Homo sapiens: one gene and its partners. The protein of the gene in region 2 interacts with the protein of the main gene of each other region in a pairwise test. Each region holds a gene or a part of one and is shown on either strand. Other genes may lie near its edges.

The links.
Region 1: the proteins of TRIM44 (region 2) and TRIM17 interact in a two-hybrid assay, tested with the Homo sapiens proteins (one study listed by BioGRID).
Region 3: the proteins of TRIM44 (region 2) and TRIM10 interact in binary tests that used the Homo sapiens proteins (3 or more experiments, as listed by UniProt).
Region 4: the proteins of TRIM44 (region 2) and TRIM69 interact in binary tests that used the Homo sapiens proteins (3 or more experiments, as listed by UniProt).

What each region holds. Positions count from the first base shown.
Region 1 is NC_000001.11:228,413,862-228,421,693, reverse strand, and holds the start of TRIM17 (E3 ubiquitin-protein ligase TRIM17), read left to right. Parts: upstream 1-4,832; 5' UTR 4,833-5,155; exon of another isoform or gene 5,156-6,580; 5' UTR 6,581-6,621; coding exon 6,622-7,050; intron 7,051-7,801; coding exon 7,802-7,832. UniProt on the Homo sapiens protein: E3 ubiquitin ligase that plays important roles in the regulation of neuronal apoptosis, selective autophagy or cell proliferation.
Region 2 is NC_000011.10:35,679,764-35,686,788, reverse strand, and holds part of TRIM44 (tripartite motif-containing protein 44), read right to left. Parts: intron 1,531-7,025; coding exon 1,453-1,530; intron 1-1,452. UniProt on the Homo sapiens protein: May play a role in the process of differentiation and maturation of neuronal cells. May regulate the activity of TRIM17. Is a negative regulator of PAX6 expression.
Region 3 is NC_000006.12:30,151,429-30,158,222, reverse strand, and holds the end of TRIM10 (tripartite motif-containing protein 10), read left to right. Parts: intron 1-831; coding exon 832-854; intron 855-1,168; coding exon 1,169-1,284; intron 1,285-2,463; coding exon 2,464-2,496; intron 2,497-3,736; coding exon 3,737-4,254; 3' UTR 4,255-4,451; coding exon of another isoform or gene 4,452-4,535; 3' UTR 4,536-6,280; downstream 6,281-6,794. UniProt on the Homo sapiens protein: E3 ligase that plays an essential role in the differentiation and survival of terminal erythroid cells. May directly bind to PTEN and promote its ubiquitination, resulting in its proteasomal degradation and activation of hypertrophic signaling.
Region 4 is NC_000015.10:44,732,538-44,739,552, reverse strand, and holds the start of TRIM69 (E3 ubiquitin-protein ligase TRIM69), read right to left. Parts: upstream 3,026-7,015; 5' UTR 2,849-3,025; coding exon 2,843-2,848; intron 1-2,842.

The DNA of each region.
Region 1 (7,832 bases), on a different chromosome or scaffold from region 2:
GTACACTATGGAGGTAGCCTGAGCATGCAGTGTTTATAAAAGTGGAAAGAGTGGTTCTAAATATCAAAAAGTTAAAATTCCAGAAATAATAGAAAGGAGAGTTAGGCATTAAGAGATAGTGCTATGGGCCTTGGTGGACTGAACAAAGGAGGACAAAAGTGGGAATAAAGACAAAGACAAAAGAGTATATTTGGAAAAAGGGGTCAGGGGGCTCCTTGCTTCTAGTGAACAAGGGCCCTGAGCTTCTAGAGCCCTTCTTATTAAGTAAAGGAGACAGGGATAAGGGGGTGGTTGTGGTCAGCTGCTTGACTTAGTGCAGGCCTGCATGACTGCATTCTTTGAACAGTAGGCTCCAGATGTCCCAGTAGATAACCTCAAGGAGCACAGAGCCAGGGAATGAGGCCCTCAGCGTACCTTCTGGTGGCAGGCACAGATGCGAGTTTGCCCACATCCTGCATTCATGATAAACAGTTTGCTGTTTAGTCATATAGCCTCCAGTGGAATGCTGAGTTGGTCACGACCCTCAGGCTTTCAGCTCCCAACAAGATAGCAGAATAGACCTCCCCAAAATATGCAGATTTGATATAAGAATTATTTTGAGCTGAAGGCACTTGAAGAACAGCAGGTGTAAGAAGGGCCCTCTGACCCCTTTTCCTGAAAGCAGGTGATGAACCCTCCATGGGAAAGGTGCTTGCCTCTACCAGCAGGGAGAAACAGCATGACTAGGCATGGGGACTGAAGTGCAGCAAAATGTATACAAACAGGCTTTGTTAAAGTAGCTCTTATCGCCAGGTAGAGTGGCTCATGCCTGTAATCCCAGCACTTTGGGAGGCCAAGGCAGGCAGATCACCTGAGGTCAGGAGTTCCAGACCAGCCTGGCCAACGTGAAACCCCGTATCTACTAAAAAAACAAAACAAACAAAAAAAATCAGCCAGGTGTGGTGGCGCGCACCTGTAGTCCCAGCTACTTGGGAGGCTGAGGCAGAAGAATTGCTTGAACCCAGGAGGTGGAGGTTGCAATGAGCCACGATCACATCACTGCACTCCAGGCTGGGTGACAGAGTGAGACTCTGTCTCCAACAAACAAACAAACAAACAAAAATAGCTCTTACCTTCCCCAGCCTCCCTAGGTATTCCAGTTGCTTTCTCACAATTACTACCCTTTGTTCCATCCAGTGGATAAGCACTTAGGCCTAACTACTCTTGAGGTCTTCATTTTGCTGTGAAGGCTCCCATGTACATGTACAAATGAAATGTGTATGCTTTCTCCCATTAATCTGTCTTCTTTCGTTTTAGTCTATGCAGGCTGCTATAACAAAATGCTATGGCTTGGTGGTTTATAAGCGACAGGAATTTATTGTTCACAGATCTGGTGGCTGGCAAGTCCAAGGTCACGGTGCCAACAGATTGAGCTTCTGGTGAGATTCTGCTTTCTGGTTCACAGACAGGGCCTTCTCACTGCGTCCTCATGTGGTGCAAGGGGTAAGGTGAAAATAAATCTCTGGAAAGGCACCAATCCTATTCATGAAGGCTCCACCCTTATGGCATAATTACTTTCCAAAGAACTCCATCTCCTAACACCATCACCTTGGAGGTGAGGATTTCAAAATGTGAATTTTGGAGACAGACATTCAGTTCATAACAATCCGGATTTGTTTTTCTGTGGCTCAGTGGACTCTCCTGTTGAGCAGTCTGAATTGAAGACATAAAGAGGCCATGGCTCTCTTACCCTATTTTCAGGAGCCCCTCTTCTTTTCCATTTAATTCAGCCTATTTTAAATTGCATGAGCACTTAAATTTTGCTCTCGAATCTTTTCTACAATGTTAATAACTTAGTGGGGGCTGCATTCAGTAAGGGCAAAGGATATTTACCTTGTAGCAGTGTAAGTAAGACTTGTGTTTCAAGACTGACATTGCTGATCCTTTGCTTAAATAATTTGAAAAAAAAAACCACAATCCACAGCAGTGGTATTTAATTTAAGAATTAAATTATTAAAGTAGAATTCAATTTAAGAATTCCAAAAGGATATATAGTGAAAATTGAGCCTCCCTCAATTAGGGGGTTCCTCAGCCCTTAATTTCCCTCATCAGATGGAGTTTCTTGTTTATTTCTTGTATATTTTCCAAGAGATACATATACAGTAATTATGTTTACCTAAATAGTGGCAGACTACATATACTGTACATCCTGCCTTTTATTAAACCTAACAATTTATCAGGACACATAACTGCTATCTGATTTTTTCTTAATGACTTGAGGATATGAAGGTTATTCCAATTGTTTTATCATGATGATAGATTTCTCAGCTCAATAACCAGGTGAGCCTAAAAAGCATTAATAATGAGCATCCTGGGCTGATGCCACATTTTAACAAGTATTTGTTGAATTCCCCACATCATGCTAGTATGGGAGGAGACTGTGAATTAAATTGACCAAAGACAGACGAACAGGAGAAAGGCATCCATGTTGTATTGATCTTAATATTTTTATATGCATGGGGTGTACAGGAAAGAAGTGAAAACCCAAAGAAGTTGTTAGGCTCAGCTGCTTGTAAACCATTTGTAACAAAGGGTGATAACGTGTCAGCAGGTGACTAGGACATGTGTGGTGCTATGCAAGATATAGATATATTCCATTTCCCCTCTAATTCTGTGATTCTGTTTTCCCAATTGAAGGAAACCTGCAGCTCACAATCCCCTCACTGATGCAAATGACAGGCAGAGGATTGGGTCTGCCCAATCCCCAATTTATTGGGGAAAATAAATCTTGGGCCCCAAAATCACTAGCTAAAAGGAAAAGTCAAGCTGGGAACTGCTTAGAGCAAACCTGCGTCCCATTCTATTCAAAGTCATATCTCTGCTCACTGAGATAAATGTATATCTGATTGCCTCTTTTGGAAAGGCTAATCAGAAACTCAAAAGAATGCAAACATTTGTCTCTTATCTACCTATGACCTGGAAGCCCCCTCCCCACTTCCAGTTGTCCCGCCTTTCTGGATGGAACCAATGTTCATCTTACATATATTGATCGATGTCTCATGTCTCCCTAAAATGTATAAAACCAAGCTGTGCTCGGACCACCTTGGGCACATGGCTGTGTCATGGGCGTGTGTCCTTAACTTTGGCAAAATAAACTTCCTAATTGACTTAAACTAGCCTCAGATATTCTGGGTTCACAAGGGTAATTCACTTAATCGGCCAGTGTGCGCAGCCAGCCCGCACCTGACAGCACACAGACCCCTTTGTGTGTGCGAGTGATGAGAGACCACAGAAGAAACACTCTACCGAGTGAGCCCAGGGAAAGCCAGCCATCTATGCCTGTGGCCAGCTGTCTACACCCGCACACCCAGGAGATTGCAGAATGGTGCCTCTTAGCCTTCAAGGCCCTGTTTTCCTGCCTGTCTGCACCCCCTGTGTGGGCCAAGCCTTAGTTTCTTCATCTGTCCTCTCTCTCCAATCCCAGGACTCTGACTCAGGGCACGCAGGCCTCTGGCTCCTGTTCCTGAAAGCAGGAGATGAACCCTCCATGTGAAAGGTGCATCCCTCTACTGGAGGATGAAGCGTGATGACTAGGCGTGGGGACTCAAGGCCAGGAGAAATGGCCACCAGTCAGGACCTGGGCAGGGCTGGGGGCGGCATTTTGGCTGAAACCGTAAGAGACTTTTAAACCAGAGCAACTCCATCTTGTATAGAGGCTGGGTAAAATAATTCTGAGACCTGCTGGGCTGCATTCCCCAGAGGTTAGACATTCCAAGTCACAGGATGGGATAGGAGGTTGGCACAAGATACACGTCATAAAGACCTTGCTGATGAAACAGTATGTGGTGAAGAGGCCAGCAAAATCCCACCAAAACCTAGATGGCGACCAGAATAACCTCTGGTTATCATGACTGCTCATTATATGCTAATTTTAATACGTTAGCATGCTATGAGATACCCTCACCAGTGCCACAACAGTTTACAGATGCCAAGACAAGGTCACAGTTACCCTATATGGTCTAAGAAGGGGAGGAGCCCTCAGTTTCTGGAATTGCCCTTCCTTTTCTGGGAAACTCATGAATACCCCACCCCTTATTTAGCATATAATCAGTAAATAGCCATAAAAATGGGCAACCTGTAGCCCTGGGGGCTGGTCTGCCCATGGAGTAGCCACTCTTTATTCCTTTACTTTCTTAATAAACTTGCTTTCACTTTACTCTATGGATTTGCCCCGAATTCTTTCTTGCCCAAGATCCAAAACCCTCTCTTGGGGTCTGGATCAGGACCTGTTTCTGGTAACAAAACCACCTGGGGTGTCGGCAAGACCCACCCCGTCCCGCCTGGTTCTAGGGGACCTGACCTGCCAGGTGGTCCCTCCAAACTGGTCCGCCCACAGGATTGGGACGCCCCTCCCTGTACCCTCAGCCTGATGCTGACTGCCAACCATGTGGGCAGACCTGGCGGCTGACTGGCTGCTCCTGGGGACCCCCTTCATAGCTTCTCAACAGGCACTCGCTCCTGCTGCCTCGCCCCCACCCCAGCCCACACAAACTCCTCTCCATCCCCTACCCCGACCAACTTAGCCCCTCACCTAACCCTCCAGCCTGGGGCTCGCGTGCCCTCCCGCAGCCCCAACCCCAGGTTGAGAAGCCTCTTCCAATCCCACTCCCCCCACCCTGACGCTCGCCTGCCCGCCCCTAGCCCCACCAGCTGTCCCCATTCCACTCCCCACCCCCAAGTAACCCCCCAACTCCCCACCCTCCACACTCCCTTAACCTCCCCTAAAAGTCCCACCCCAGGCCAACAAGACTCCTCCCTTCGCTGGGCTGTGGACCACATCCTCCCCACCGCCCAGTCAGCACCCGCTGCGCCTGTCCCCGGCTCGTCCAGAGCCTTCCACCCCCTGCCGCCTTCCTTCCCCAAGCCACCCCCAACCTCTCCTAAGAGGCGCCGCCCCAGTCCCGGCCGCCGAACACTCCCTCGCCCAGCATTCCCCTCCCCCGCCGCCCCCCAGCCCCCGCTGACGCCACAAAGTCCCTAGGCCTCCCGACCCCAGGTCCCCACGCCCCGGGCCGGGCCGCAGCCTCCTGGGCTTCGTGGGGGCAGACCCAGCCTTTCCCGGCAGCGAGCGCTCGGCCAGGTGCACTAGGCGCTGTGCGGGCCCCCCTTCCCCGCGGTGAGTAGCCCCCACCCCGCCGCCTAGGCTACCCTCCTGTGGCGCCTGGGCCACGACCTAAGCCTAACCCGGTCCTCCTCGCCCTCCAACGCCCGGCCTTCCCGCCTCCGCCGGCCGCCGCGTCCCTGGAGGGGCTAGCGCGCTTCAACAAGGTAACTCTACCGGGACCCTAGCGGACCAGAGCGGGAAGGACAGCCATCCCGGCAGCCAGAGCCAGAGCCCCAGGCCCGCTGCCGCTGTCCCTGCCCGGCTTCGGTCAGGGTGGGCTGGGTGCCTCCGTTAGGGCTCTTGGGGGGAGTCGGAGGGCTGGCGCCGGGTGGTTGGCGTGCAGAAAGCTCCGAGAAACTGGACGTGGGACAGAGCCGGGGAAGTCTGAGACCCCTAGACGCCCTCGCTTTAGGGGATGGCAGAACGGAAGGGGAGAATCGTGCTTGCAGTGTAGACGCGATTTTCAACTCCTTCTGCAACTCGGTCCCCATAGCAACCCCGTGGCGTAGGCGAAAGTCTGTAGATCTCCACTGCGTGGGGTCGCGAGTGTTGAGATTGCAGGGGGCATCTATGTGCATGCTTGTGTGCCTGTGCGTGTGTGCGCGCGTGTACCTGTGTGTACATGCATGTATGTTTACCGATATGTGCATCTGTGCCTGTGTGTGCTGTGTTTGTGGATCAGTGTTTCTGTGCGTACATGTTTGTATTTGTGTGGTGTGTATGCGTGGGTATGCGTGTGTGCACATGCACGTTTGTATACATACATGGGTATGTGTATGGGTGTTCGTCTGTGCGTACATGCACACGCGTGTTTTTTCTGAACCCCACCTCACTACCGAATGGAAGAGAGCTTTTTTCCTCTGATAGCCCATCCCTTCTTCCTTTGGTGTACGGGGTTTTGTTAAAGAAAAAATTCTGACATTTGAAAGGCTCTTTAGTCAGGCTACTTGCAATGGGAGAGTTGCGCCAGCAAAGACAGCTGGGGATGTATGGGGGAGTTGGAGTGGGGATCTGGGTGGGGTCAGTGGATGGAAAGTGATTAAGGGAAGGCTCCAAGGGTAGGGGCTTCTCCCTAAGCTGACCTAGCAGGCTTCTCCAGAAAGGCAGGTTGAAGGCCTAGCCGGCAACGGTCTGTCGGGGAGGAGGAGCTGATGAGATGTGGAGCTGGGGGTAGCCAGCAGCAGGCGGAAGTGGACGGGTAGGGTCCAGGCCCAGTGGAGAGGAGAGGCGGAGGGGCCTGCAGAGCATTGGTCAGGGAGGGTCTGTGTAGTTTCTGGGGAGGCATCTGTGTCTGTTGTTGACAAGGCTAAAAATGATGACTCTGGACTCTCTAACTGGACTGCAGTCCTAGCCCTCCTCTGTAAAGGGAGGCTGTACAGGACGGTTGCACACTGCCGGCGCCCAGATCATCGGGCTGCTCCCTCCAACTCTCTCCAGAGTCCCTCAAGCGGGAACCTGCCTCGTGTCTCCCAGGAGCCATGGAGGCTGTGGAACTCGCCAGAAAACTGCAGGAGGAAGCTACGTGCTCCATCTGTCTGGATTACTTCACAGACCCTGTGATGACCACCTGTGGCCACAACTTCTGCCGAGCCTGCATCCAGCTGAGCTGGGAAAAGGCGAGGGGCAAGAAGGGGAGGCGGAAGCGGAAGGGCTCCTTCCCCTGCCCCGAGTGCAGAGAGATGTCCCCGCAGAGGAACCTGCTGCCCAACCGGCTGCTGACCAAGGTGGCCGAGATGGCGCAGCAGCATCCTGGTCTGCAGAAGCAAGACCTGTGCCAGGAGCACCACGAGCCCCTCAAGCTTTTCTGCCAGAAGGACCAGAGCCCCATCTGTGTGGTGTGCAGGGAGTCCCGGGAGCACCGGCTGCACAGGGTGCTGCCCGCCGAGGAGGCAGTGCAGGGGTACAAGGTAGGCCACATCGGGGCCCAGGTCAAGGGGCCGGGGAGGAGGCATCCAGGGGGACAAGGTGACCCAGATCATGGGGGAGGGAGGAGGTGTCCAGGGACAAAGTGGCCCGAGTCAGGGGCTGGGGAGGAGGCATCCAGGGGACAAGGTGGCCTGTGGCTGGGTAGGGGTGTCCCTGGGGACAATGTGGGCCTACACTGTATGATGCAGGCATTGCAAAATCTTACCTCTCCTCTCAGAGTATTTTGGGTGGCTCTGAGAACCAAACTGATTTGAGACAGATAAGCAGAAGCAAAGCACTGAAATTCATTCCCTGTAAGCTTTCCATGACCCAGGAGTCGCTCCCAAGGAGCCAGAGGCCCATGGAAGCATGTTAGAGCCAAACATGTACCTGAGGAGGATGAGGGTTAGTTTAGCAGGGTCCCTTTGCACAGATTTCTCTGGTTTCGGCTTTCCCGCCCTTGGTAAGAACATGGCTTTCCTCCTGGCCTAGGGCAGTCCTCTCTGGCATGGTGGCTGTGCCTTCTGCTCTTAGGAAGGCCGAGGGTCACAGCAATTCTTACACCTGCCCTTTTTTAAGTGCCTTCAGCTCAAAATAATCCAAGGTGGCACATTCTGGGTGACGTATTTTGATCCCCTGCCCCTCCTGAGGAGGGTCTCTGGGGTGGGTGCAGTTTCAGCGAGCACAACTGGACTCTAGGCAGGAGGTAGGGGGATCGCTGATCCCAAATCCTGCGGTTTGTGTGTCCCACAGTTGAAGCTGGAGGAGGACATGGAGTACCTTC
Region 2 (7,025 bases):
GTCAGGAGTTCGAAACCAGCCTGGCCAACATGGTGAAACTCTGTCGCTAGTAAAAACACAAAAAGTTAGCTGGGTGTGGTGGCATGTGCCTGTAGTCTCAGCCACTCAGGCGGCTGAGGCAGGAGAATCACTTGAACCTGGGAGGGAGAGGTTGCACTGAGCCGAGATCATGCCACTGCACTCCAACCTGGGCATCAGAGCGAGATTCCGTCTCAAAAAAACAAAAAACAAAAACAAACAAACAAACAAAAAACCAAAGTGAATGTACTTAATGCCATTGAACTGTACACTCAAAAATGGTTAAAATTTTGTATGTATATTTTAGTACAATCATGTAAGAGTCCTAGCAAAGTGCCTGACTCTCAGTAGATACTCAAGAAATGCTAGTCCCATTCCTCTTAAAAAAAAAAAAAACAAAAACAAAAACAAAAAGAACCTACAGTAAAATAAAATCATGCGCCTTTCCCTATTTAATTGTGAGAAACTTTGATTCTAAGGCAAAGCCAGCTGGCCCCAATACCAGGTAGTGCCACAGTAAGTGTCTGGGTAGGAAGGAGAAGGAAGTCTGTTCAGTTCCGTTTACCTCCACCCCGTTATGGTGTCTCCCAGAATATCAATCCTCTAGACCCTAACATATTGAAATAAAAAAAAAAAGCCGGGACACTTAAACCAGTTTCCAAACCAGACTTCAGGTCATGAGGAAAAAAGTATTCTGAGTGGCAGCTGGCTCCTGGAAGCAGTGGAGAGATAAGACGCTAGTGCTGAACACCAACTAGATGAGTCTGGATCCCATGCCAGTCCCTGGCATTAAGATGATCTGTATTTCTCAGCTGGTGCGGTGGCTCACACCTGTAGTCCCAGCACTTTGGGAGGACGAGGAGGGCGGATCACGAGGTCAGGAGTTCGAGACCAGCCTGACCAACATGGTGAAACCCCGTCTCTACTAAAAATACAAAAATTAGCAGGGCATGGTGGCGCAGGCCTGTAATCCCAGCTACTCAGGAGGCTGAGGCAGGAGAATGGCTTGGACCCGGCAGGCGGAGGCTGTAGTGAGCCAAGATTGCGCCACTGCACTCCAGCCTGGGCAACAGAGCGAGACTCTGTCTCAAAAAAAAAAAGATGATCTGTATTTCTCTCAGACGCCTTTGGCTGCATCTAATGGACACAGAGGACCAAAGATTCAAAGACCCCTGGTAAAGGAGGATTAAAAATGCACCTGTCTGCAGTTCAGGGAAAACAATGAATGATTATGTGTTGTAAGTCATAAAATAGAGAAGGAGAAAAATAGATGACTTATCTCTAGGCATATCAGGACACTGTTTCTGATGGGCAGGCTTAATTAAATCTTAATGCAATATTCAGAGAGATGATCATCAACACCTCACAATTTTAGCTCAAGGAGAATGAAATGCTTGGGGTACCAACACCCAATCAATTCCAAACAATACTTACTTTAGGGTCTGAGCTCTTGAACTTCAACCTTTCCACCAATTCGATCATAGCGGCCTTCAGTCCACCTGAGTCTTTGCTCTAGAAGAAAGAAAAGTGAGGGGTCACTAGACAGCATTTTGTTGCTCTCTCAAACACAAACAGCATTTTGGAAGACAATGAAATAGAAAGCAATTTTTTCTTAACAGCCAAGAGAGCTAAACAACAAAGGAGAGGTGCATTGCCCCTCTTTCCCTTCTCTATGGACAAAGAGTGTCAGGACATAAATTGCCCAGTGACTGGCACAACTATATGGAATGAAAATTAAATACAATTTGTATAGGCTGACTCACTGCTTCATCTCAGGCTCAACTGTGCTGGTGTTCACTGAAGCTCTACAAAAGACAGTTCCATACAAGATGTCTATTTTACAGACTGGTAATTTTTATTTTGAACCTTTATGCATCAGATATAGAAGTATGCAATATTAAATATACTTATAAAAATTAAAACAAAGAAAATAGTCTGAAATTTAATTATGAATGGAACTGTAGTGTGCTGATTAAGAACACAGGTTTTTTAACTGGGTGTGGTAGCTTGCACCTGTAATTTCAGCTACTCAGGAGGCTGAGGCAGGAGCATTGCTTGAGGCCAGGAGTTCAACACCAAAAAAACCCATAAAACTCACAGGTTTTTGAGTCAGACATATACAGTTCCAATTTTGGATTTGCCATTAACTAGTTGATTAATTTCAGGCAAATTACTAAATGTCTCAAAACCTTCTCCCCCTTCTATAAAATAGTGATAATAAACTGGGCTATTTTGGGGCCTAACTGAAAGTGTTTTAAAAGATATTAGCACAGTATGTGGCACACAGTGAGTGCTCAAAAATTTCATATGCTATTACTATTATTACAGTATAATGATTTAGAATAGCACAGTACAATAAAAGACTAATGTGAGTCCCAAATGCAAGCGTATGTATATAATTTTATAACTGCCACAATTAAAAAGTAAAATTGATTTTGATGTATTTTACTTAACTCAGTATATTCAAAATATCATTACAACATGCAATTTCAACATGAGATTTTTTTTTATGCTAGGTCTTTGAAATCTAGTATTTCACAATTACAGCCCAATCAATTTAAACCAGCCACATTACAAGTGCTCCAAAGCCACATGTGACTAGTGACTACTATATTGGTCAGTACAGATTTAGAGCACAGACTAGAGCCCTAGTGCCATTAGTCACACACTAGCTGTGTGACCTTAGGCAAGTTACTTACCCTCTCTCTGTCTCAATTTCTTTATCTGTAAAATAGAGCCAATAACTATCTATTTCATAGGACTGCAGTAAGATTAAATTAGTTAATGTATGTCAAGGTACTCAGAACAGAGCCTGGCACATGGTAAATAAAAAAGGAAGTATGAAACAGTTTTATTACTATCTGTCTCCCTCGTGATATTTTCAGTTCCTTAAGGGTAAGAACTGTATTTTTTTGTATCCCTGTATCTCTTATGCCCAGCATCTAGATGTTGTAAAAAGTCTGAACAAATCAATGAATGAACATATAACCTTAAGACATGAATGCCATAATAATAATACATTATATTATATATAGGACAATCTAAAATCACAGGAATTCATTTATTTTCTTATCTCAACAACTCTATCAGATAGGTAGGAACATTCATTTCACCAATGAGGGAAAGGAAGCAAAAAGAGGTAAACTCACTGTCATTTCTATGGGGTAGGGACAACAAAGAAGTACAAGAATAAACAGATACTGCAAATATCTCTTACTCAAAATTGGCCTCTGGATCTGTGATAACATATCTTCCAAATTTACAGAACTAATTTCAATTCCTCCAAAATAGGAAATACCTAATAAGATTCCACTATATAAATTAAAATATACTAAAGGGTCAATTTTCCCCCCTCTGACCTCTCTTGCCTCTCAAGTCTACACAGTAAAAATCAGACACAACATGACTACAACCAATATCTACTTTAGATGTGTTCTCCAAACACAGCTTAAATCACATTTCCATGTTAGCAAAGGTTCTAAATTTTAATAAGTTCTATTTTTTAAAATGATGGTTTACAACTCCCCTATATCCTCCACTAATTTTAGTCTTTAATCTCTGTGGTCTCATAGCAGACAGTTGACAAAAGGAACTTAGAGGTCATATACCAGGAAGCAGGTGAGACCTGAAGTGCCTAAAAAAGGGTTAAGTTGCCAGAAACAATCATGCTTTTACGAGATGATCAGACAATAAAGCCTGTCTGGTGATATCATTCCTCTAACCTGCTTCTCATTGGCTGAACAAGCAGGTCACTTGTCCCTGGAAAGCTCTCTTCCCCCACATCCCAGCTGCCAGCGCCCATTTTAAGCTCTTCGGCAAGAGCTCTGATATATTATGACTTTCCCCCTGGCTCTAGAGAACAGAAAGGAATGCACCAAACTGTGTCTTAAAACCTTCAGAAAAGAATAAAACGACAACGAAGGAATCCCTAAGAAGCAGACAGCCTGTCTGCAAGCAGATGTGCCTCGTGTGGATGAATAAGGGAACCCTTAGCCTTCTTTCATAAAAATTCAGTGTGTCAGCAGAATCCTTCCTCCTTTTCACAAAGCATCAGCAGCATCGCCTAACCAGGGAAGAGACAGAGGAGAGGCAACTTAAGAGAGCCTCCCTTCAGGAAACTCACCTGTTCCACCTCCCCACCCCACTCTCTGTGAATTATTCACCAAGATTAACTGGGCTCTATGATGAGCCTGCTATACTCAGTCTCTAAATCAGTGGTGAAGAAAACCTTTCCCAAAGGCTTTTTTAAAAATCTATAAAATAAGCAGTTGGTCAGAAGGCAGAGGCTCCTCGGGGCAGACCTGACCCTGACAGCTGCAGAGCTGGGGCAAGAGTCCAAATGGAGGACTCTGGCCCCAATCCACTCCCACCACTTTCCCCACATTCCAGTCCCTTCCTGCACCCCAAGGGGCCTTGTGCACAGGTGTTCAAGCTAGCAGGTCCAAGCTGAGAATACCCCTCTTGGTCACCCATGATACACATGTGGGACCTAGGGATACATGTATCAGAAACTGGTCCATCTTCAGGCAGACGGACTCAAGGAGAGGCTCTGCAGGCCCTGGAAGCAAGCTCAGGACATTTTACCAGGTAATTCTTGGGTAGCTAGGTACTTGAAGAGTGGTACGGAACGGGACAGGCATGGCTACAGGAGGGGTCTTCAAAAGCATGGGACATAGCCCAGCTACTCGGGAGGCTGAGGCAGGAGAATCGCCTGAACCTGGGAGGCAGAGGCTACAGTGAGCCAAGATCACTCCACTGCACTCCAGCCTGGGTGACAGAGCGAGACTGCATTTCAAAAAAAAAAAAAAAAAAAAAAAAGTATGGGACATAGGTCAGGGGCATGGGGTTGTTTGGGTCTAAGGGTGGTGGTATCTGAGTCTGAGTATCCCCAAACCATAGAATAGTACCATGTTTTGGTTAATTATTTGTTTGCTGAGGACAGCCATTAGTCAAAAGATAGCCAGACAGGAGATTATATCCTCATTTGTTCCATAGTTAGGGAACCAGTGAACAGAAAAGATAGTGGAACAGAACAGCTGCCTCTGAAACCTGAGTTCTAATTGAGAAGTGAACCAGGATAGTAAGAAAAGACAGCCTAATTCTAACCTTGTAGACATTTGGTTCCATTTTTAGAAATGATTGTCAATCCTTGGGGCACATAACATGACTAGCAAAGTAGTAGGATTCCCCTGCTATCTGTACTTCTCCACCTCCATCCCACCCAATGCATTCCAAGAACACAGGAGTTCAATGTGAGCATATCTTGTTTATGTACCTTGTTCCTCCCCTAAGAAGGTGTAGAATAAAAAGAGATAAGTGCTACATTGTGACACCCACCACTCAGAATTTGATTAATCTGTAGAAGCATAGGATGCTTCACAGAAGCCACCTCCTAGGGATGAGTCATAATAAAACCAAAGGACAAAATGCTGTACATGTGAAGGTATTCTTTAGTCTCCAAAGCACTTTCATATGCTCTTTCATTGGCATCTCACTGAAAAGCAGTGTATTCTCACTTTACAGCTGAAAAAAATGGCTGGTGAAAATCAAATGAACCCAAAGCTCAGAGCGCTTATACTCTTTCACTGGCATTTCACAGTAATACAATAACTAAAAGGTAGTGTATTCTCCTTCACAATGGACAAAAATGGCATTGTGGATGTCAAACAATGTCCCCAAAATCACAGAGCTGGTCAGTGACAAAACCAAGATCAGAAAGATCTAAATGAAAAAGATTTATAACATATACATGGTATCAAGAATACAGAAAAAACACATAAGGGATTTCTATACATCAGTAAGAAAAGGCCAAATAAACCCAACAGAAATCTCCAAAAAAAAATGAACAAACGAGACCCTGTCTTAAAAAAAATAGAAATGTGAAATGCAAACACATCAAAACATGCAAAAGATGCTCAGACTCACTCATGATTAAAATATAATTTCTTACCCATCAGCCTGAAATAAATTTTAATCTCATAACAGCAAGTGTTAGGCCCTGGGGAAATTGGGGACTTCCATATGTTGTTGATGGATATATAAAATAACTGCCACTCTGAAATCACATGCCTACCAATCCACTTCTCCTTTCCTCTTGAGGAAGACTAGCACCTGTGTCAAGGATGCATGTACAAAAGTATTTATTGCAGCACTGTTTGTAATACTAAAAATCTGTAAACACCCCAAGGATTCATAAATATTGGGTGGCTAAATAAACTGTGGAATTAACACACTGTGGAATACGACATAGCAAATAAAAAGAATGAGGTAGGTTGTATGTACCTGGATACAATGCATGACATATTGTTGAATTTAAAAAAAAAAACAAAACCTTGCAAAATGGTACATGTAACAGTTTTTTAAAAAATTATTACTTTCTATGAGTGACATAGGTATGTAGAATATTAGAAAAGCAATTATTGCTGGGACTGGTACTTAGGATAGAAGGATTTTAGAGTTAAATATATTCCTATTAATTGCATAATTAAGATTTAGCATACTAAAAAACAAACAAACAAAAAAAGGCAGGCAGTAAGGCAGGGAGAGAAGCAGAAGTTGACCAAGAGGGCCAAGGTCTCCTGCTTACAGTGCTTCTTCCCATGAATTTGCCTAAATGTAAATACTGGGGCCTTTTCCTTTGACAATGCAAACATATGGACCAGCAGATTCAAGAGAAGGTTCTTTACTTGATATTCATGTATGGATTTCAGGGGGTCTGAAATCCTCAAAACGATATAAAATTTGGGCTGTACATGACATTAGCTTTTCTCACATCCTCAAAAACAATTAACATTCCAAATGTAAAGAGCATTGCACAAAGAGAAAGGAGACCTAGGTTTTACTACTAGCACTGCCAGCAACTGCTTGTGTGAGCTTGGAAAAGTCATTTTACATCCCTGGGTTTCTGTTTTTCCATCTGTAAATGAGGAAGATGGACCAGATCAAAAGCTATATATCCACAGCCTGAGGCCTACAGAACTATTTTCTTTGGCTTTTAGAGTGTTGTC
Region 3 (6,794 bases), on a different chromosome or scaffold from region 2:
TTTTTGCTCTCTGGTCTCCACCTCTCCGTCCCACCATCTGCCAAATAGGGAAGATACTTTCCTTAAATATTTCACAGGGCTTTTGTGAGGATCCAACAGTAAGATGGAAGTGAAAGTAGCACTTTGAAAAAGTATTAAGTAAGTTGCAAACCATTCTCTATAACCTAAATGTCACCAACCACCAGTCAGGAAGTTTGTCCTGGTCTATTTCACTTCCTCACACTGGAGGAGAGGTATTGGGGTCCCCACAAAGTATTGGAAAGGCAGCATGACTTAGAATGATGCTCTTAGGACTGAGAAACAGGAGACCTTGGTATGAGACTTACTTTGCCTCCAGTGAGCAGGGGAAGGTCACTTCACCATCTTTATCTAAAAAATAAAGGCTTTGGGCTCTGATCCACAGAGATGGGTGAGTCCTAATGCTCTGTGACTCTATGCATCTGGTATCCTTTTCCTGTCCAGGGCTAGAAATATATTTTGTCTTTTCCAGTCATAAGAAAAGTGGGAGGAGCCTGGGCAACATAACAAAACCCCATCTCTACAAAAAAAAAAAAAAAAAAAAAAAGAAAATTAGCCAGGCATGGTGACAAACACCTGTAGTCCCAGCTACTCAAGATGCTGAGGTAGGAGGATCCCTTGAGCCCAGGAGGTTGAGTATGCAGTGAGCCATGATCACGCCACTGTATTCCAGCCTGGGCACCAGAGTGAGACCCTTTCTCAAACAAACAAACAAGCAAATAAAAAATAAATAAAATAAAAGTAGAAAAAGAAAGGAAAGAAAAATGGAAAGGAGAAGCTGGAAACTGAATTTCTGGTATCTCTTTCTCCTAGGACATCAGAAGCACTCTAATAAGGTAAGCAATATAGTTTCTCTCTTTTCTTTTTCCATATAAATATACATACATGTACTGCATGCCTAGTTATTGCCACACAGGTATATAACATTCTCACTTAAGGATACAAATTTACATATAAACCTCTATATACCCAAATGCCTTCTCAGGTATATCCATAGATGCCCAAAAATGGGCAGTGGGATTCATCCTAGAGGAAGTACGTCTGCCTGCAGGAACTAGCGCCATCATGCCCTATTAGAAGATGACCAGCTGAGTCTGGAGACATTATTAAGGATGATAATTCCCAGACCCAGCCATTTCTGTGCCCCTAGATGTGAAACCAGAAAGTGCCGGAAACCGGTGGCTGTGTCGCCAGAGCTGGGCCAGAGGATTCGGGACTTTCCCCAGCAGGCCCTCCCGCTGCAGAGGGAGATGAAGATGTTTCTGGGTAAGAGAACCCCAGGCCTCCACAGAGCGCAGGTGGCCATGAAGCCTGGGTTTAGGAGTGGCCTCCACGCTCCACTGCTGAAAGGTGTGACTTTGGCAAGCCTTATTCCTTCCTGTGCCTTGATTTCCTTATTTGCAGATTTTTATAAAATCTGCCTATTAGGATATTGTGACAATGAAGAAAGAGAATAAAGGTGAATATTTCTGGTGAAAAAGTTAAACTGATTTTAAAATAATTCAACAAATCTGATTAGTGGTCATTAAGCAATATGAAAGATAATGATTAACAATATATCATTCTTAATAAGTTAAAAAATCCCACAGCAACATTTGTAATATGTGATAAGTTTTTGATGATGAACATTGTTAATTAATAGCCAACAACAGTATTTATCTTGACCCTGTGGTATCTGGCTCGTCCCTCCTTCCTTCTCACTTTCTTTCTGTTAGTCTGGCTCAGAGTTAGACGGTCCTACGGGGACTGTGCTCCACTTCCTTTTCCGGAACAGGGAGTGGTGGTAGGGTGTGGGGGAGGGTTTGGATGAGAGTCAGGAATGGGACATGGCTCTCTGCCAACCACCTCCTCACTAACCATGACAGAATGAATGATGACACCAATTTTGAAATGACCCACCCACAGTTATGTCACCCTAGAAGGACTTTTCCCATAATTCCATTTCCTGCAAATACTTCCAGTGACCTGTCAGTGAAGGAAATTTCACTCTAATCAAAGGCTGACCTTTGACTCTCCCCAAAATTATTTCCAAGTGGAATAATAAATAAATGAACCCATTTCTCTATTCACTAAGCAGATATTTCTTGAGCATTTACTATGTCCTGGGCTCTGCGGGTACAGAGGTGAGCAAGGCAGTCATGGTCCCTGTTTGATCAGGGCTAGGGCAGTGGGGCTCCCACCAGCAGCAGCAGCTGCATTGCCCAGGAAATTGTTAGAAATACAGATGTTCAGCTCCACCCCAGAGCACCTGAATCTGAAACAGATGTGTTTTAACAAGAGCTCCAGATGATTCTGATGCAAGCTTGGAACCACTGGTCTAGAGGATTCCAGCTTACATTCTTCTTCTTGTCCCTTCCCTCTTCTTGGCCTCAGTTTTCTCATCATTAAGTGTCTGATGGTTTTGTAAGACTAATAAAATCTCATCCTGGTTTATTTTCTTTACAGAAAAACTATGCTTTGAGTTGGACTATGAGCCAGGTAAGGAGCCTATGTCAGGATGGGAGAGAATGAGAAGTCCTCGGAAAGGAGAGAAAATTTTGCAGGATTTGCACTATGACTATGTTATGACTATGACAATAGTCATAACAAACACCCATGGATACATATACACATCATATATATTATATATACACATATGTGTGTGTATATAATACATGTGTGTATATATAGGTTGTGTGTGTGTGTGTGTCACATTGTTTGTAAGGCTCTCAGGAGAAACATGAAGAAAGGACAAGCACATACACATACTACATTCGTGGTATGAAGCTCACATCCTGATCTGCGCATGTCGAGTAGATAGAAAGATTAATGCAGAATGGGATAAAGTCCATCTGGGAATGCTTTCTGGATAAAGGGGACTTTGATCTGGGTTTATAATCACCTCTTTAGAACGTAAGGAACCCCTGCTTCCTCTCAGATGTCATTTCACAGATGACAGAAGGAGGGCGGCCTGTGGGTGGGAAAAAAATGAACAGAATGGACCCCTTCAAGGCTGTCATTTCTCAATCAACCAGCCTAAGACCCTGGGAGTCACGGAGTTGTTGGAGGGGGTTCTCTAACCCACAGATGGACCTAAATTTATGGAAGCTTCTCAATTTATGAATACTAAAAGTAACAAAACGCAAGGCTCTGCAGCAGTTTTTGGTGGTAAAAAGTGGTCCTCAGACTCTGACAGTTTCAGAATTACTGAGGCAGAGTGAATAACCCAGGGGTGAGCCAGAGAGCCTGCCAGGAGGGAAGACTGTAAATGAGTCACCAGTGCCCTGGGAGGAAAACAGGGAGGAATCATGAAGTTTGGACTGAAGGGAGAAATGTCGCTGCACTGTGGGATAGAGATGGGAGGAGGGGAGAATGTGGTATATCAGCCCCAGGAGATCCAAGCTGGCACGCACAGCTTTGGAAACCAGCCAACTTGCGGTGAGCAGAAGAGCTTTCCCGAGGACCACACTGAACTAAACGAGAGCTTTCACATCCTCTGAGGCAGGCTTTTCAGGCTTTACCTGTGTGCAAATCACCTGGGCATCTTGTTAGGATGCAGATTCTGAGAGCGTATATCTAACAAGTTCCCAGGTGGTTCCACACTGTTGGCCCACGTAGGCACTATACATGTTTTTGGTAATAATAACACTAACAGGAGGGGCCCAGGGGGAGTTTCTATGCCTTCCTTGGAGGTAATAGCATGTCTGCTGACATCTGTCCCTTTTGGTTATCCCCACAGCTCACATTTCTCTAGACCCTCAGACTTCCCACCCCAAGCTCCTCTTGTCCGAGGACCACCAGCGAGCTCAGTTCTCCTACAAATGGCAGAACTCACCAGACAACCCCCAACGTTTTGACCGGGCCACCTGTGTTCTGGCCCACACTGGCATCACAGGGGGGAGACACACGTGGGTGGTGAGTATAGACCTGGCCCATGGGGGCAGCTGCACCGTGGGCGTGGTGAGCGAGGATGTGCAGCGGAAGGGGGAGCTTCGGCTGCGGCCAGAGGAGGGGGTGTGGGCTGTGAGGCTGGCTTGGGGCTTCGTCTCGGCTCTGGGCTCCTTCCCCACACGGCTGACCCTGAAGGAGCAGCCCCGGCAGGTGAGGGTGTCTCTTGACTATGAGGTGGGCTGGGTGACCTTCACCAACGCTGTCACCCGAGAGCCCATCTACACCTTCACTGCCTCCTTCACTAGGAAGGTCATTCCCTTCTTTGGGCTCTGGGGCCGAGGGTCCAGTTTCTCCCTGAGCTCCTGAGAAGGAGCAGTTACCTACTCTCCTCTAAGTACAGGACTCATATCAACCCAAGTACCATGTGGACTTGATCCCTGGCTGAATCACCTGGATGACTTGGAATAGAAATGACTGCTTTAGAAGATGGGATGGGGCCGGGTGGTAAGGGATAGAAGAGAGGACTCTCAATCTACTGATCAAGTCCTTTCCCCAATGCCCAGTGGATGGCCAGGGTACCTGGGGACTCAGGCTGCTGCCAGTTCTGCTCACCACCATCCGTGCTTGGCACAGAAGTAGCTGCATAGAAAGGGCACTGGATTTGAAGTCAGAAGACCTGGGTTCTTGAACCAGCCTGTCAACCAGTTGTATGACTTTAAACAAGGCATCTCACCTCTTTTCATCTTGTTTTCTTCCAATAATGTTAGAGTTCATGTAATCACATTCTCTAGAACCATTTAGTTTGTGTTAACTATGAACCAAGCAGTGTGGTGGCCACTGGTGACTTGAAAATATAGAGAAAAAAAAAACCTGCTCTATATCTGAAAGAGCTCTTGGGAAGACAGAGAAACATAAAGAGGAAATTACAGCACAGTGTGGTGGGTGTTACGGGAAGTCCAACCCCAGCATTATGGGAGTTCAGGGGAAGGGGCATAGCCCAGCCTGGAAGGAGAGGGTGAGTGGGGGATGGCTTTCTGAAAAGGGTGGTCTAAAGGATGCCTATGGTCAATAGGGAAAAGAGGGGAAGAAGCATCTTAAGAAGAGGAAACAGCAGAGAACTGGCTGGATGACCTGTGACTCTGGAGCACTGGGTTGTCTCCATTGTCATTATGGGCAGATGTGTGCCATCCCCAGCCGACGCCACTCACTGCCTCCTTCCTCCTGGTGTTGCCACTTCTGGGTGAGATTAAGGTGCAGGGCCTGGGGGCAGGAGGACATAAGGTATAGCCATAAATCATAACCCAGGGACCACACTCAACCCTAGGGAAATTGTCTTCCTGATCAGTTGATTACCATCTGAGGTCAAGAAATGAGATAGTGGGAGCAAATGGGTCACAAATAGCTCAGCTGTGGGCTCAGAAACTGCTAGGTAAAAGAATTCCAGAAGGAGGCCAGGGCATAAGTTGGATGACCTATGAACTTTAGTCTAAAGAATTGAGACTACCGTAATTGAGACTACTGTAGTGACATCTGAGAAATGGGATGGAAGAGTGACCATGTTTTATTTTCTTGTTCTTGTCACTATTGTATTTTATTTTGCATAATCATGCCCTTCACTGACAGTCTCCTTAACATCATCTGTTTACTCTGCTCAGTGTAAACTACAATGCTCTGTCATCTCCCTACTGGGTCTCCTGGGAGGAGGGGAGCCATCCAGGGTGCAAACTCAAAGGCAGAGGGCACAGCGTGCTTAGGCCCAAGCTTAGAATTCAATTGAGAAGTTCTGTTGTTCATCCTTACCTCAGCAGGTAGAAAAGAGGTGGAGATCAGAAGCCAGGGATTAGAGATTGAATTGCTTTCCCTGGGAGTGTGCAGTATCTCATTAAAATGTTGTATATTCAAAAAAATACAGACACACACAAGTGCCTATATAATGATAAAACATATCCAAAGCACCCAAACCTGTGATTCCAGAAAAGTAGATCCTATTTTTGTTTATTTTTATTGGCTTTAGCTGTGTCTTTTGAAAGGACTATTATCCTCTAAAATGTATGTGTATGAAGATCCTGGCTTGCAGCTCGGGAGCTTTACACACCTTGTGTCACTTTATCTTGGTAACGAGCCAAGATCATGCAACCAGTTCATCCATGTCTGACCCAAGAGCTCTTAACTGCTATGCTGCACTGCCTCATTCAGAGATAGATGCCTGCATGGGTCCTGGCGATTATTTTAATGCTGGCTACACCCCCACAGGTGACTTGGATTCAGAAATACAATTTATATTTCTTCTTTTTAAATTGTTTTATTTTATTTTTCTTTTAATAGTTATATGTCAGTGAGAACAATTTATATGTCTTACACTGAGAAATAAAACTGCTCATAAGTGAAAACACTCATGTTGGTCTGTCAGTACCTGCTTCTCCCCTAGGGTAATTTTACTTGAAGTTTACTTGCTTTCGGAGTATGGAGTCAGCACAGGGGAAGTGGATAGATCCTAAAACCTGGTAACTTCAAGATAAGGCAGCTTAATGAACCTCCTTGCTCTGCTGGCCGGAAGTGGGACTCTGGGTTCCCTCCCCAGGAAGTGCTCAAGTCTAGAGGCCCCAGAGTCCCAGCTACCCTTTCCGACTCTGAAGGACTGTTGCACATTTGTAACATCCACAGTTTACACCTCATTTTTCAAAGCTTACATGGTAGCAACCCTTTCTATTGCAAAGAACTGAGACCCACTCAAGTTAGTTCAAATGATAGGTAAGTTTATTATAAAAGCAGAAATAAGGAAAATGCGATTTTCCACCATGAGCCAGGCCCCGTGAGAAGCTATGTCAGGCGTGAGCGAGTTGGTGGGGTCACCACTCGTTCCTGTAGGAAGAACTAGAGATTCCAAAAATGCTGATAACAATCAC
Region 4 (7,015 bases), on a different chromosome or scaffold from region 2:
TAAGCCCGTCGGAAAAGCACAGTATTAGGGTGGGAGTGACCCAATTTTCCAGGTGCCGTCTGTCACCCCTTTCTTTGACTAGGAAAGGGACCTCCCTGACCCCTTGCGCTTCCCGAGTGAGGCAATGCCTCGCCCTGCTTCGGCTCACGCACGGTGCGCTGCACCCACTGTCCTGCGCCCACTGTCTGGCACTCCCTAGTGAGATGAAACTGGTACCTCAGATGGAAATGCAGAAATCACCCGTCTTCTGCATCGCTCACGCTGGGAGCTGTAGACCAGAGCTGTTCCTATTCAGCCATCTTGGCTGCCCCCTCCGTGTGTTTTTAAAGTATGTTTAAAATATATAGCGGTTACCAAGGCAGGGCAAAGAGGAACGGGAAGTGACTGATAATGGGTATGGAATTTCTTTTGGGGATAATGAAAATGTTCTGGAATTAGATAGTGGTGATAATTGTACAACTTTGTGAATATGCTATAAATCACTGAATTGTAAACTTCAAAAGGGTGAGTTATATGATATGAAAATATATTTAATGTTATTAATTATTGATATTATATGATTGACTGGTTTTATATGGTTAATTCATCTTGCTAGCTGAGGGTTTGCCAATTCCCCTGACTTTCAATAATATATCCTTTTCTGTAAAACAAGGGATTAATTATATTAGCTAATATTTACTGAGCATTCACTGTGGAAGAGGATTTACATACATTATTTCATTTAATCTCAGAACAACCCTATGAAATACGTATTATTACTACATATTTTAAGGAAACTGAAGCTCAGATTGCTTCAAGTATCTTCCCAGAGTCACAATTATTAAGTAGTGGGTCTCAGATTTGAACTCTTTATTTGACCCCAAAGCCTATTAACCACTGAGTCAGCAGAGAGCCCATCAATATGTTTTGTGGAATTGAATTTATTAAATGGATCAAATTTGTGAAGCAAAATATCTGCAATAACTTCCTACTGCTCTAGAGGGAGCTATAGAATTGGAAACCAAATGAGAGTCTAAAATTTCTGGACCTGGAAATCTTTTAGGAAACACATCTACTGCCAGCCCCTTTTAGGGGAAGAAGTCTAACCTTAAGGCAGAGAGAGAGAAACTCGAGTCAGGAATTGATATTCATCCTTATAAAGCCCTGGCTGGCAGGAATCACTTTATAAGAAAGCACATCAGCAGGTCACGATGGCCCAGGCCTGTAATCTTAGCCTCACTTTGGGAGGCTGAGGCAGGAGGATCACCTGAGGTCAGGAGTTGGAGACAAGCCTGGGTAACATGGTGAGACCTCATCTCTACTAAAAAAAAAAATAATAATACAAAAATTAGCCAGGCGTGGTGGTGCGTCCCTGCAGTCCCAGCTATTTGGGATGCTGAGGCATGAGAATCACTTGAACCCTGGAAGCGGAGGTTGCAGTGAGCTGAGATGGTGCCACTGCACTCCAGCCTGAGCAAGAGAGTGAGACTCTGTCCTAAAAAAAAAAAAAAAAAAAAAAGAAAGAAAGAAAGTATGTATCTTCCTCCTTCAGTTCACTGTGCACATTCTCAAAGAGCAGAGAAAAGGCAAAGAGCTATGAAGTCCATGGAAGCTTGCATAAGAAATCCTTAATTTTTACCAGAGATTTTTTTTTCCTGAGAAGTTTTGTGTTGTAAATTTTTGAAATCATAGTTAAGATATCTAAGGAGAGTTCATTTGTTGCTTTTCAACCTTTATTCCTTCAAAGTAATTTTTAAACTTTGATGGGCAGTTTTTATGAAGAATTAACTTTGAGAGCAGAAAAATACAGTTCATCCACAGAGACAAACTATATAGCACAGCCAGCTTAAACCTAAGAGCAAGACACACTCCTGCTTCACGAGTCAAGCCATTTGCACATAAGAAGGCAAGATTCTGAACTTTCTGACTTCTTGGAGCTTCCCAGAGTTGAAAGAAATTTTAAGCCATTTAATTCACTCCTTTCCAACCTCTGCCTGAACATCTGAAGTAATGGGAAACTCACTATCACACAAACAATTTTTTTACTATTATGGAAAAGTGTCTATTTTCACTGACTTGGCCTTAAAGTAATAAGAATATAGTAGGTTTAGGCAATAGTGTTTATTTTTGCCCTAGAAATTATAAACAAAATGCTTATAGCCCTGTTTGCTTCAATAGCTAAGCACAGAGATGAGTAGCAGCAAACCTAAAGGTCCTATGATAGAGGAAATTAGAAACTGATCTTAATGATTAATATAATGAAATTAAACTTTATAAGAAGTGGAAACTAGTGGAAATGGATGATAACTCAGGATTCAAGGGCCCCTGAAAAACCCTTAGTGAGTTTTTCAAGCTTTCATGTAGTAAATAACCATTTTCTTTTGTTTGACAATCAGGAAAACACTAAGTTCAGAAGAACATAACTTCCTTTATTTTAGCTCTGAAGAGGTCTTAAAGGAAGAATTCAATTAAAAATGTTTACTATCTAAGTATCAACTCTGCCTTAAATATAAAATAATCAAATGTGAAGGTATTGTAAGCAAACCAAGTTATACATAATAATTTTTAAATCTAAAATAAAATGATTACATTGATAATGAAAGTAAATTGTATATAGTATATAGTTTATTTTTTCTCAAAATGTTTTGGTGGATTTCATTACTTTCCTACCAGCTTCTCTAGTATAAATTATCAGTTATTCCAAGGCTTGGAGAGAGTATAGTAGCTACCAGCTGTCACAAGTTAAATACTTCCCTTCATGAATTTCCTTTTGTGCTCCTAAATCCATATCCTCTTCTATGATCCTGTTTTCCACACTATTCCTAGAAGCCCTGCTAAGTTAAAAAAAAAAAGGGTCACTCACCTCCATGAAGCTTCAGCCCACCAAGGGGCAGAGGCAGGCACTTGAATCAGAGCTCAGCAGGCCCAGGATGGCTGCAGACTGGGAGTCAGGGACCTTTTAGTTTTCAAGGAATGGGCTCAGAGCATGATGGAAGAAAGAAAAGTTCAGGAGCTGGAGAGAAGCAGCAAGGCCAGAGTGAGGTCTGGCAGATTCCGTGACAGTTTGTCAGTTAACTTTGATCATCATTTGCTTAAGAGAAAGAGAAACCCTCATTAGAATACCCTACCTGCCCAACTTTTCTTTTGTAGGAGACAAGGGCAGCTCATTTAGATTCGAGTTAGTGGTCTAATCTTAAGGTTCATAGCTCCCCATTTCTGGACTAAGGATGCTCTATGAAAGAGGAAATACACGTCAGCAGCAGCCTATATTAAGCCTAACTCATGAAAAATAACCACCTCACCCCTGTTCATGATCCCATCACACCATCAAGACACCAGCTGAGTGGCTTTAATAGAGAGCTAGTTCACCTCTCATATTCCAATGAAGCAGCCCTGATTTTATCTCTGAGACAGTAACACAGGCCTGGGAAACACCAGGCCCTAAGAAAGCAGGATGAAAAAAGCTTCATTTCATACAGCTTTCTTCAGCAGTTTTAGCTCGCAGAGAGATGTACCAACACTGTGCTCCTGAGTGACTTATAAAGAGCCACCACAGAGCCAAACAGTTTTTCTTACAGTAGTTCCTCTAACTCAATATGATTTCTTGCACGTCTAGCTCCTGCCTAGCTGTCCAGACTTAATGACCACAGCTCTTTCCCCAGTGTTTGGGATCGCCCAAATATGTCACGCTTCTGCAGCTTTGTATATGTTGTCCCTTCGGATGGGAGTTTCCCTTCCCCCACACCCCCGTCATTATCTCTTTACTAAACTCTTCCCTAACCACCCCCTCATCCCCAAACCAAGCTTTACCCACTTCCCTGTCTCTTGTAGAAGATATTTTGCTGGCTCTATACCAGAGGTTACCAACCTCAGCCCTATTGATATTTTGGGCCTGCTAAGTCTTACGTTAGAGGGGCTGTCCTGTGAATTTTAGGATATTTAGCAGTGTCCCTGGCGTTTACACACTAGATGCCTGTAGCCACCCCCCCCCCACCAAACCCAGTCATAACAAAAATGTCTCCAGTCATTGCCAAATGTCTCCTGGGGGCAGGGGTTGGAATCACTCCCCAGTTGAGAAACACAGCTTTACTCCCTTCCTTCCTTCCTTCCTTCCTTCCTTCCTTCCTTCCTTCTTTCCTTCCTTCCTTCCTTCCTTCCTTCTTTCCTCTTTCTTTTTTTCTTTCTCTTTCTTTCTTTCTCTCTCTTTCTGTTTTCTTTCTCCCTTTCTTTCTCTCTCTGTTTCTTTCTCTTTCTTCCTTTCTTTTTCCTCTTTCTTTCTCTCTTGCTCTCTTTCTTTCTTTCTCCCTTTCTTTCTCTTTCTCTTTCTTTCCTTCTTTTCTTTTCTTTTTTCTTTTCTTTCTGACAGGGTCTCACTATGTTGCCTAGGCTGATCTCAAATTTCTGAGCTCAAGCTGTCCTCCCACCTCAGCCTCACAAAGTGCTAGGATTACAGGTGTGAGCAACACCACGCCTGGCCTAGTTTTACACATTTCTATAGCACCCTAGATCTTTGTACACGTGGCTTTAACAGAGTGTATTCTAATTGTTTGATTGCATGTCTGCCCCTCCACTAAGTTGTGAACAAACCACAGGATAGGTAGTACTGTATCTTGCTCACCTTGGCAATACATGGCATTTGTTAGATCAAAACCTTTGTCAGATAAATGTCTATGAAATGCTGGTGATCACTTAGTCAAAAAAGTAATTTTGTTTCATCTTGATTGTTTTTGTTGTTGGCTAAAACATTTGACAATGCTTAGTATAGCTGATTTTACTAAAGCCAGCGCCTGCACATTTTTGAACCTTTAGCCTAGGGGTAAGAGTACTGGCCTAGAAGATGGAAGCCTTGTCTCTCACCACCAGAGCACTGAATAGCCTTAGCTAAGACATTTAACTCCTATGGGTGTCAGTTCCTCCTTCTTTAAAATGTGAATTCCTAAGACCCCCTTCTGTCTCTAGAAGCCTGTGATTCCAAATCCTATGTAGCAAGAAGTCTCAATCTTCACAAAGAGTACTTCAAGTCTTTTTTTCACTATTTAAAAACAGTGTCCAGGCATGGTGGCTCATGCCTGTAATCTCAGCACTTTGGGGGGCCAAGGTGGGAGGATCACCTGAGCCCAGGAGTTCAAGACCAGCCTGGGCAAGATGGCGAGACCCTGTCCCTACAAAAAATTTAAAAATTAGCCAGGCATGTTGGCACGTGCCTGTGGTGCCAGCTACTCAGGAGGCTGAGGTGGGAGGATCATTTGCGCCCAGGAGGTCGAGGCTGCAGTAAGCCATGATCATATCCCTGCACTCCAGCATGGTTGACAGAGTAAGACCTTGTCTCAAAAAATAAAAATAAAAAATAAAAAAATTCCATTGCTGTAAACGAGACCCAGAGTGATGGTTAATTTTGTATGTCAACCTGACTAATATACCCAGTATAAAAGTTGCTTAAGCAAGAATGAAATTTATTTCTCTCTTAAGTAAAAGTCCAAACTTCTATAGTGGCTCTGGTTTGCAAAGTTGTCAGTCTCCCAAATTCCTTCTCTCTACTTTGTTAACACAGAACTCACAACATCCATAAATTTGGAGAGGAGACTTTATTTCTTATAAAGCGTTAAAGGCCTGCAAGGTGGCCATCCCACAGGCCAGGAAGTACAATCTCTGGCAAAGACCAGAGACAGGCACTTCAAAGGAGGAGCAGGGGTAGGAACTTGATGCTGAATAGGTTGGCTAAACATACATATTCAACAGGTTACAGGAGGAGCTATGAATAATTATGAAGGTCATCCTGACTCATGCTTATTGAACAAACATGCATGTAACATACAACCCATGTTCACTTTGAGGTGGAGACTTAACTCTTTTTGTTGTTGTTATTGTTTGTTTTTTGTTTTTCGCGACGGAGTCTTACTCTGTCACCCAGACTGGAGTGCAGTGGCGCCATCTCAGCTCACTGCAATCTCTGCCTCTGAGGTTCAAATGATTCTCCTTCCTCAGTCTCCCAAGTAGCTGGGATTACAGGCGTGCACCACCACACTCAGCTAATTTTGTATTTTTAGTAGAGACGGGGTTTTGCCATGTTGGCCAGGCTGGTCTCAAACTCCTGACCTCAAGTGATTCACCCACCTCAGCCTCCCAAAGTGCTGGGATTACAGGCGTGAGCCACCACGCCAGGCCTAAGGTGGAGACTTAACACTTAAATGCATAACAATTAGACCCTATAAGTCAAAATGCCTGTTCAGGACAGGAAGGAACAAGGGTGCTTAGCCTCTATAAACTGGCCAGAACCAGCCCATAGTCAGTGGTCTTCTTATCAAGAGAAAGTGGCTGGGTGCGGTGGCTCACGCCTGTAATCCCAGCCCTTTGGGGGGCCGAGGCAGGCAGGTCACAAGGTCAGGAGATGGAGACCATCATGGCTAACACGGTGAAACCCCATCTCTACTAAAAATACAAAAAAATTAGCGGGGCGTGGTGGTGGGTGCCTGTAGTCCCAGCTACTTGGGAGGCTGAGGCAGGAGAATGGCATGAACCCAGAAGACAGAGCTCACAGTGAGCCGAGATCGGGCCACTGCACTGCAGCCTGGGCGACAGAGCAAGACTCTGACTCAAAAAAAAAAAAAAAAAAAAATTGCTTATCTCAGCTGGTGCTTGTTTAGCTGCTAAACAAAAAGAAAAACTGACAGGGCAGAACTCCGTCTCAAAAAATAAATAAATAAATAAATAAATAGAAAATCTTGTGGCAGTTAGAACATAGTTTATTCTTTAAGTGTAGGAGTGCATGACATAACACTTGCCTGGCATGACCTTAGATCTTACGAATAATTTGTTATTGCCACAAAGGGTCTATTCTGTCAGCCTTATGATCTTTATTTTGACATTAATGCTGGTCAGTTGTTGTGTCTAAACCATAAAAGAGACGGAGATATAATGAAGCGTGTCTGACCTCCCATCCCGTCATGGCCAGGAACTCAGTTTTAAGGTTTTTCTGGGGTCACTTTGGTCAAGAGGGGTTCCATTCAGTCAATTAGGGGGCTTAGGATTTTAGTTT